Homo sapiens: one gene and its partner. The protein of the gene in region 2 interacts with the protein of the main gene of each other region in a pairwise test. Each region holds a gene or a part of one and is shown on either strand. Other genes may lie near its edges.

Region 1 (3,500 bases), on a different chromosome or scaffold from region 2:
TCCGAGGCATTTGGAGACTCCGCTAGATCGAGGAAGTCATCTCTCTTGTGACCTCTGAACCTGATTTTGTCCAACCTCCTTAGCATGTTCAGCACTGAGGTCCTCTGCTTCACCCTAACATGACGCTCGGGTTCCCTGCAAGAGAGGGGCGTGGTCACTCTCCCGCTCGCCACCTCCAAGCCCCACGAGCCAGCTCCCACACACAGGGCACAGCCGGTCCAGCTTTCCAAAGAAAACCCCGACCCAGAGACCCCGCCCTGCCACCGTCCCTCCCACACACACCTCCAAGCCCCACGAGCCAGCTCCCACACGCAGGGCACGGCCGGTCCAGCTTTCCAAAGAAAACCCCGACCCAGAGACCCCCGCCCTGCACCCATCAGGTGGGGCCCTTGGCCACCCCACCCAGGCCAGCCTGGTCAGTGCTGAGCTGCGTCCTTGCCTCCCACCAAGCGAGGCCCCCGGCTCCCAGCAGGCAGAAGGAAGCCAGGGTTCTCAGCCTGGCTCGGCGAGGCGGCGCGCAGGCGCAAGGGAAGAATGCTGCTCTGGCATTGGGAAGGAGGGCCAGCCATGCCAAAAGGTTGCCTAACAAACCGTCAAGAACGTGGTCAACACGACGGCCACATACACCACCAGGACGGCAGCCACGCCTGGAAACCAGCAGATGCGTGTGCTAGGGATGCCTCGGTTGATTCTCTCCTGGACCTAGGGGACCTGGCCTTGTGTCCCACCTGCTCCACCTGGCCCCGGCTCCCAGGACTCCGCCCACACTGCTCCCTCTGCCTAAAGCGTGTTCCTACTCGCCATGCGACCAGGCTCATACTCTGAGACACATTCAGATCGCACCACCTCCCAGAAGCCCTCCCAGAGACAGCGGGGTCAGGCACCCATGGCCAGCTGGGCCTCCTGTCCCAGCCCCCATGCCTGCCTCCTCCTCCAATCAACACAGAAACCTGGTCACACTGAGGTGCGAGTCACTGTGTGCTGCATCAGGACACGCGTAATTCACACACACCACGTGCCAAAGGGCGGATGTGCCGTGGGGTACTGCTCCCCACATCGCTGCCCGACCTGGCCAGCAACACCAAGGCACCCCCAAAAGCCTGGAGGCCAGGATCAGTGGCCCACAGGAGGGGCCAGCCAGGCAGGGAGAGGCCACCCAGCCCCAGCCCCATCACGCAGCTCCATGGCCTGGATGCCTCTCCCAAAACCCCGTCCCCAACTTGTCCAAGACAACTGGGTCCCCGTGGGAGGACTGCTCTGTACACACCTGGGCTGAAAGCCTGTCCTGCCACTGACCAGCTTTCTGAGCTGACATTTTTGCCTCTGAAAATGGAAAGATGCCAGTAAGGCAAAGGTATCCAGGAATTCAAGAAGACAGGGCAACTGGGCCAGGAGCAAGGAGATGGGGCGGGGAGTGATCCCTGGCGGGGGTATTTCCCAAACTTCCTGCTTGGGGCGGGCAGCATGGCAAGGAAGCACTGAGAGCAAGGTCAGCTCCAGCTCCTACATGCCTGCCCCGCCCCCAAAGCCTCCTCCGCTCTCCTCAGCATCACAGTTCGTGGCAAGAAGACTCATTAACAGTGAGGACCGAAGACACAGAACGCACTAGAACCCACTCTGAGCCACAGAGGCGCGGAGGTTCCCAGCATGGTGAGGGGAGGGGAGGCTCTCCTGGGATGGGCACTTGAGTATTCCTGATGCCGGCCCTGCTGCAAAACCCACAGGACGCTGGGCGCGGTGGCTCACGCCTGTAATTCCAGCACTTTGGGAGGCCGAGGCGGGCGGATCACAAGGTCAGGAGATTGAGACCATCTTGGCTGACACGGTGAAACCCCATCTCTACTAAAAATACAAAAAATTAGCCGGGCGTGGTGGTGGGCGCCTGTAGTCCCAGCTACTCAGGAGGCTGAGGCAGGAGAATGGCATGAACCCAGGAGGCGGAGCTTGAAGTGAGCTGAGATCCCGCCACTGCACTCCAGCCTGGGTGACAGAGCGAGACTCTGTCTCAAAAAAAAAAAAAAAAAAAATCCCACAGGACACAGGCTCTACGGGGAGCTGTCCTGATGCCCAGCATCCCCTGGAAGCTGGGAGGACCCCAGGAGGGGGATGTGGGTGATGGGGAGGTAGCAACTGCTGCTCATAGGCTGAGGGAGCATGAGCCAGCCATTTGGAAAAGCTTCCCATATAGGAGCTACAAATTGCAGAGGGACTAAAGGTTCAGTCAATTTAAAAACACACAAACCTTAAAAGAAAAGAGAACAGCTGGGAGCAGTGGTTCACGCCTGTAATCCCAGCACTTTGGGAGGCCAAGGTAGGCGGATCACGAGGGCAGGAGTTCGAGACCATCTGGCCAACATGGTGAAACCCTGTCTCTACTAAAAATACAAAAATTAGCTGGGTGTGGTGGCGGGCACCTGTAGTCCCAGCTACTCAGGAGACGGAGGCAGAGGAATTGCTTGAACCCGGGAGGCGGAGCTTGCAGTGAGCCAAGATCACACTATTGCACTCCAGCCTGGGCAGTGAGACTCCGTCTCAGAAAAAAAAAAAAAAAAAAAAAAAAAGGAAGAGGGAACTTAGTAGCTATGAAATCCCTAGAGAGAAGAAGATGGAAGAGTCTATATTAAGGGACTGAAAAAAAAAAAGCCACTAAGTAAAAATGTCTAACAGGCCACCAGGCAAAAGTAAAAAGCTCTCATTTGTAAAAAGAAAGTAAAAAATGTCAAAATACGCTATAAAACAAGGAATACAGGTAACAAATATGATACATGAAGGATTAATATCCATGTTACAAGACAACTTGACTAGGCCAGGTGCGGTGGCTGGCACCTGTAATCCCAGCATTTTGTGAGGCCGAGGTGAGTGGATCACTTGAGGTCAGGAGTCTGAGACCAGCCTGGTCAACATGGCGAACCTCCATCTCTGCTTAAAATACAAAAATTAGCTGGGCGAGGTGATGTGCGCCTACAATCCCAGCTACTTGGAAGAGTGAGGCAGGAGAATTGCTTGAACCCGGGAGGTGGAGGTTGCAGTGAGCCGAGATCACGCCACTGCACTCCAGCCTGGGCAACAGAGCAAGACTCTGTTTAAAAAAAAAAAAAAAAGGCAGCTTGACAATGTAGTCAATGTAGCAAAAATGACAAGACCACTTCCTAATACGCGAAAACCTTCAAGCTCACTAGAAAGGAAACTAGGCCGGGCATGGTGGCTCATGCCTGTAATCTCAGCACTTTGGGAGGCCGGGGCGGGCGGATCACGAGGTCAGGACATCGAGACCATCCTGGCTAACACGGTGAAACTGCATCTCTACTAAAAATACAAAAAAGTCAGCCAGGCAAGGTGGCGGGCACCTGTAGTCCAAGCGTCCCAGCTACTCAGGAGGCTGAGGCAGGAGAATGGCATGAACCCGGGAGGCGGAGCTTGCAATGAGCCGAGACTGCACCACTGCACTGCAGCCTGGGGGGCAGCGTGAGACTCTGTGTCAAAAAAAATAAAATAAAATA
Region 2 (3,841 bases):
CTGCTAGTTTTACGACTGTGACTGCTGTGCGAGGCTCACACAGTGCTTCAGGCCTGCACATCAATATCACCAGAATCACCTGACAAGCATCTCATCAGTCCCTGGAGGCAGAAAAAGGGGGATCTTATCTCCATTTCCACTGGAGAGTGGGAAGTGGAGTAGGGCAGGGTGGGAACCTAGAGAGGTCAGGACAGAGCTGCAGCTGGGACCTGAGCCCCTATCCCCAGGGCTGAGTGCTTCCCTCCACTGCCCCCACTCTGGCCAGGGTCTGCAGGCTGGGGCTTTGCTGGCTCAGATTTGGAGGGGTGGCAGGTCTGTTTTGTTTTATGACCCAGAAATTAGCCCTAACATACTGACAGGCTTGACGATAACTTTCCTTGGTCTGTAAACAGGGTAGAAGAAATGGAATCTATCTGATGGAGGAACTGGTAAGAGGGACTCTAATCAAGACAGAACCTAAGCCCCACTTCTTTAGGGGAGGGGCTTCCCTTTTCTTCCCACTCCAATTTTGGCTGCACAATTCAGTGCTCCTGACACTTGCTGAGTTTCTTCACCTTCTCACTGCATATTTGTTCATCTCAAGAGACTTTCTCATCTCGACAGTCCTAGAAGTTCACAGCAGATGAACTGGCCTGAATGGAGCAGAGTGGGTCCTCCAGAGCCCAACTAATGTTTTTCCTGAACGTCTTCCCACTCTCGGGACACACTCTGATCTTCCGCAAAGTGAAGGGACCAAAACAATGTGAAGCAAACATCGAGGGACCCTCCACACAGAATGCAAGAAGAGGGTCTTGGAAACAGGCCCGGGATGAGCAGAAAGCAAAGCTTTGTCAACAAGCGAAGAAAACCTCCCCCGGGGGGGGCATAAAACCATCAAGATCAAAGGAACACTGTACCTGGGAAGGTGGATCAGAGAGAGGAGACCGTTTTGGCGACTTTTTCACCCTAAATGTGTCACTGGAAACAAAATGGAAAACGTAAACACAACAAGCAGAGGGACGGAACACTCCAGAGCAGTACAGAGCGGACCGAAGCTACTGCCTCTGCGGAGCCATCTGGCCCAGGCCACCCTCCCACCTCTGTCACTCCAGCACCAGCGAGAGGCCACGCCGGCTACCCACTCTCACTTTTTAACAGCTATTATTTTTGCCCCCAAGGGAAAGATCCATCAAGCTGGAGATCTTTAAAGAGATGCCATTTTGGAGAATGACCCAGAAAATGAAGCTAAATTTAACTAAATGTTCGTATTTTATAAAGCAAATTTCTGGTGAGCAGATTAATTTATCTGGATTCTTCCAGGGGTATCTGAACCCAACTAAGGCTAGGGGAGGGGCTCTAGGCTCAGGACACCAATTTACAGACGGGCAAGGCGACACCTCACTTAATGAACAACTGAAGGGGGCCACGCAGAAATAGAAAGTTCGGGGTCCTCAAGGAGAACCTCCTGAATCCTCCCTATCACAGGATCTTTGAGCTCAATGGATTCCCATGCTCTGAAGGCTTCTAGGTGGAATCCTGACTAAAGGTAGGGCCAGGGGAGAGATGATTTTTTTTGTCTTCTCCTAACCATGGTAAACAGACAAGATTCACAGCTCTTCTCTCCCTTTTTCTCCTCCATATGAATAGCGGGGCTGAGAGGCAAAGGAAACCACCAAATCAGACTCCTGAAGGGTCAAGGAAGCAGATCCCAGGAGAAAGGGATGCCTTTTAGCCTGAGCAGTTCCATTAAGTCCACCGAGCAGTCTGGGGGTCACTTCCACAGTCAGAATGGGGGCTCTTTCCACCCTGTAGACTGGCCCCTGCCCCGTCTCCAGCCCCTCCATGGGTTGGTCCCACTCCCAGCAAAGCAAAGGCTTTGGGGGGTGATCCCTCTCCTTAGATCCCACCACCCTCCCCTGCTTTGCATGTTAACTGGGTGGGCAGAGCAATTTGGCATTCAAGTTCCTTCCTTGTGTTCTCTCAAATCACTCCAACAATGGCATTTAATCATGAAAAAAAAATAAATGGCTATTTACAGCATTTATAATATTTGCCATTAAAACAGTGCAATCGCAGCTTGAAGCATATATTTATTCATGCATATAAATATATAACCATATATTTTATAGTTGCTAAGTGGCTCAAAAATACTCAAGAAATCCCTTGGGCAGAAGAGAGTCTGATGGACTCGACCCTATCCTGGGACTGCTGGCCACCTGGACTGGCCGGCTTCCCTTCTAAGGACAGGGAAAAGTTGCATGTCTTTGGACCCCCCCGAGCTGCCCACAGATCCCTCCTGGCCATGGGAGGCAAAGCAGCAGAGGCACAGAAATGGTCAGCTCTGTTTCTACTGACAAGTGGCAGGGTGACCCACAGATGGCAGACAAGGCATGCCGACACCCAGCCAGGTCCTGGGTGACTGAGGATGCAGGACTGGGGCAGCCTGGCGATGGCTCTCACAGCTGTGTGCTCCACTCTGCACTGACCCTGCATTTCAGGGCACTCTGTGGGCCTCAATTTGGAACGGCCCAAATATTTCTGCTTTACATGTTAGCAAGAATAAGCTGTGGCCGTCGCTGCCTGTGGTTAGACCAGACAGTTATTTTAACGTGAAGCCACAGTAGTGTTGAAAGCAATCGCCCACTAGCCCAGTTTAAAATGAAAAAATGTAATGAAGAGTTTAAAAAAAATGTTTGATTTCAGATGAAGACATCCAATATGCAAGGGAAGGAAAAAAGTTCCATTCCTGATAAGCAGGCAGATGCTGGATAATCACATTTTCACAGCCAAGCAGTCTCTTATGCAAATCACTATGAAACAGAAAAGTAATCTTTGCTACTGGGGAGCCCCATGCCCCATCATTCGCAGGCCCACCACAGAAACACATCAGTAGCAGCCAGAGGGGAAATAAAAATGGCTTGGAAGCAGAAACAAAAGGCAGAAAAATAAGCACATTTGGCATAAGAGGCAGATTGCATTAAATTTACTTACAACAGAGAACACACAGACATCACATCTTCAACCATCCTAAGACAAGAAGACAAAGAAAAAGAGAGACAGACAGAAGGAACTGACAAAAAAGATAAATCTGCAGACAACTGGTTATTAATGGGTTAGGATATGGCGGCCACCGCTGTAGGGCAATGCCCCAGCTTTTTGGAAGGAGCTGCTGGGGAACAGCTTCCTCTCTTGATCCTAATGATCCCACAAAGCCGTGGTGCCCCAAGAGCTTTGTCAGACCCACGCAGGGTCTTCCACGCCAAAGTCCCTGTCTGCACTAGAGGTGAGGACACAGTTGGGTAAACTTCCCTGACCCCTGTTAGCTCTAATATTCAAACAAGAAAGTGACTGGGGACGCCTATGAGACACAGAACATATCTTGGAGAAGGAAGAGGTGGCGGCTAAGGTTGGCTCTCATTCCAGATGAGAGAGCACGGCCTTGCAGTCTAGCCATTGCAGACTTCTCCTATTCCAGGCTTGAAATCAAGTTTCCAACGTGAATTCTAGAGAGTCTCTAGTAGGGACCTAGTTGAGTAACTGATCTAAAACAAAGTCCCCATTTTGGCCAGGATGGCCTCCAGCCACCACTAGACAGTGGCAGGTTGATCTAAGGTAACCTGCTGTAGAGACCTCCTCTCAGGAGGCCCTGGGTTCTTCTCAGAAATTCAATGTTAGGGGGAGCCCAGAATGGGAGGTAAACATGTCGTTCTGTCTCTTTCGTGCCAGGCAGACCCAGAGGGGCCAGCGCTGTGGTCTGTTCTGCTGCCCCTGGGAGACTGATCTCCTCAGCCTTGTTAAATTACTGACAATACTTCCCGTAAGAGTAAGGAAATCGCCAAGATATTAACCACAGGGGCCAAAG

Evidence for each region.
Region 1: the proteins of TACC2 (region 2) and GRAMD4 interact in a two-hybrid assay, tested with the Homo sapiens proteins (one large-scale study listed by BioGRID).

Annotation. Positions count from the first base shown.
Region 1 is NC_000022.11:46,623,386-46,626,885, reverse strand, and holds part of GRAMD4 (GRAM domain-containing protein 4), read right to left. Parts: intron 136-3,500; coding exon of another isoform or gene 87-135; coding exon 1-86. UniProt on the Homo sapiens protein: Plays a role as a mediator of E2F1-induced apoptosis in the absence of p53/TP53. Plays a role as a mediator of E2F1-induced apoptosis in the absence of p53/TP53. Inhibits TLR9 response to nucelic acids and regulates TLR9-mediated innate immune response.
Region 2 is NC_000010.11:122,212,507-122,216,347, reverse strand, and holds part of TACC2 (transforming acidic coiled-coil-containing protein 2), read right to left. Parts: intron 3,007-3,841; coding exon of another isoform or gene 2,971-3,006; intron 958-2,970; coding exon 897-957; intron 1-896. UniProt on the Homo sapiens protein: Plays a role in the microtubule-dependent coupling of the nucleus and the centrosome. Involved in the processes that regulate centrosome-mediated interkinetic nuclear migration (INM) of neural progenitors.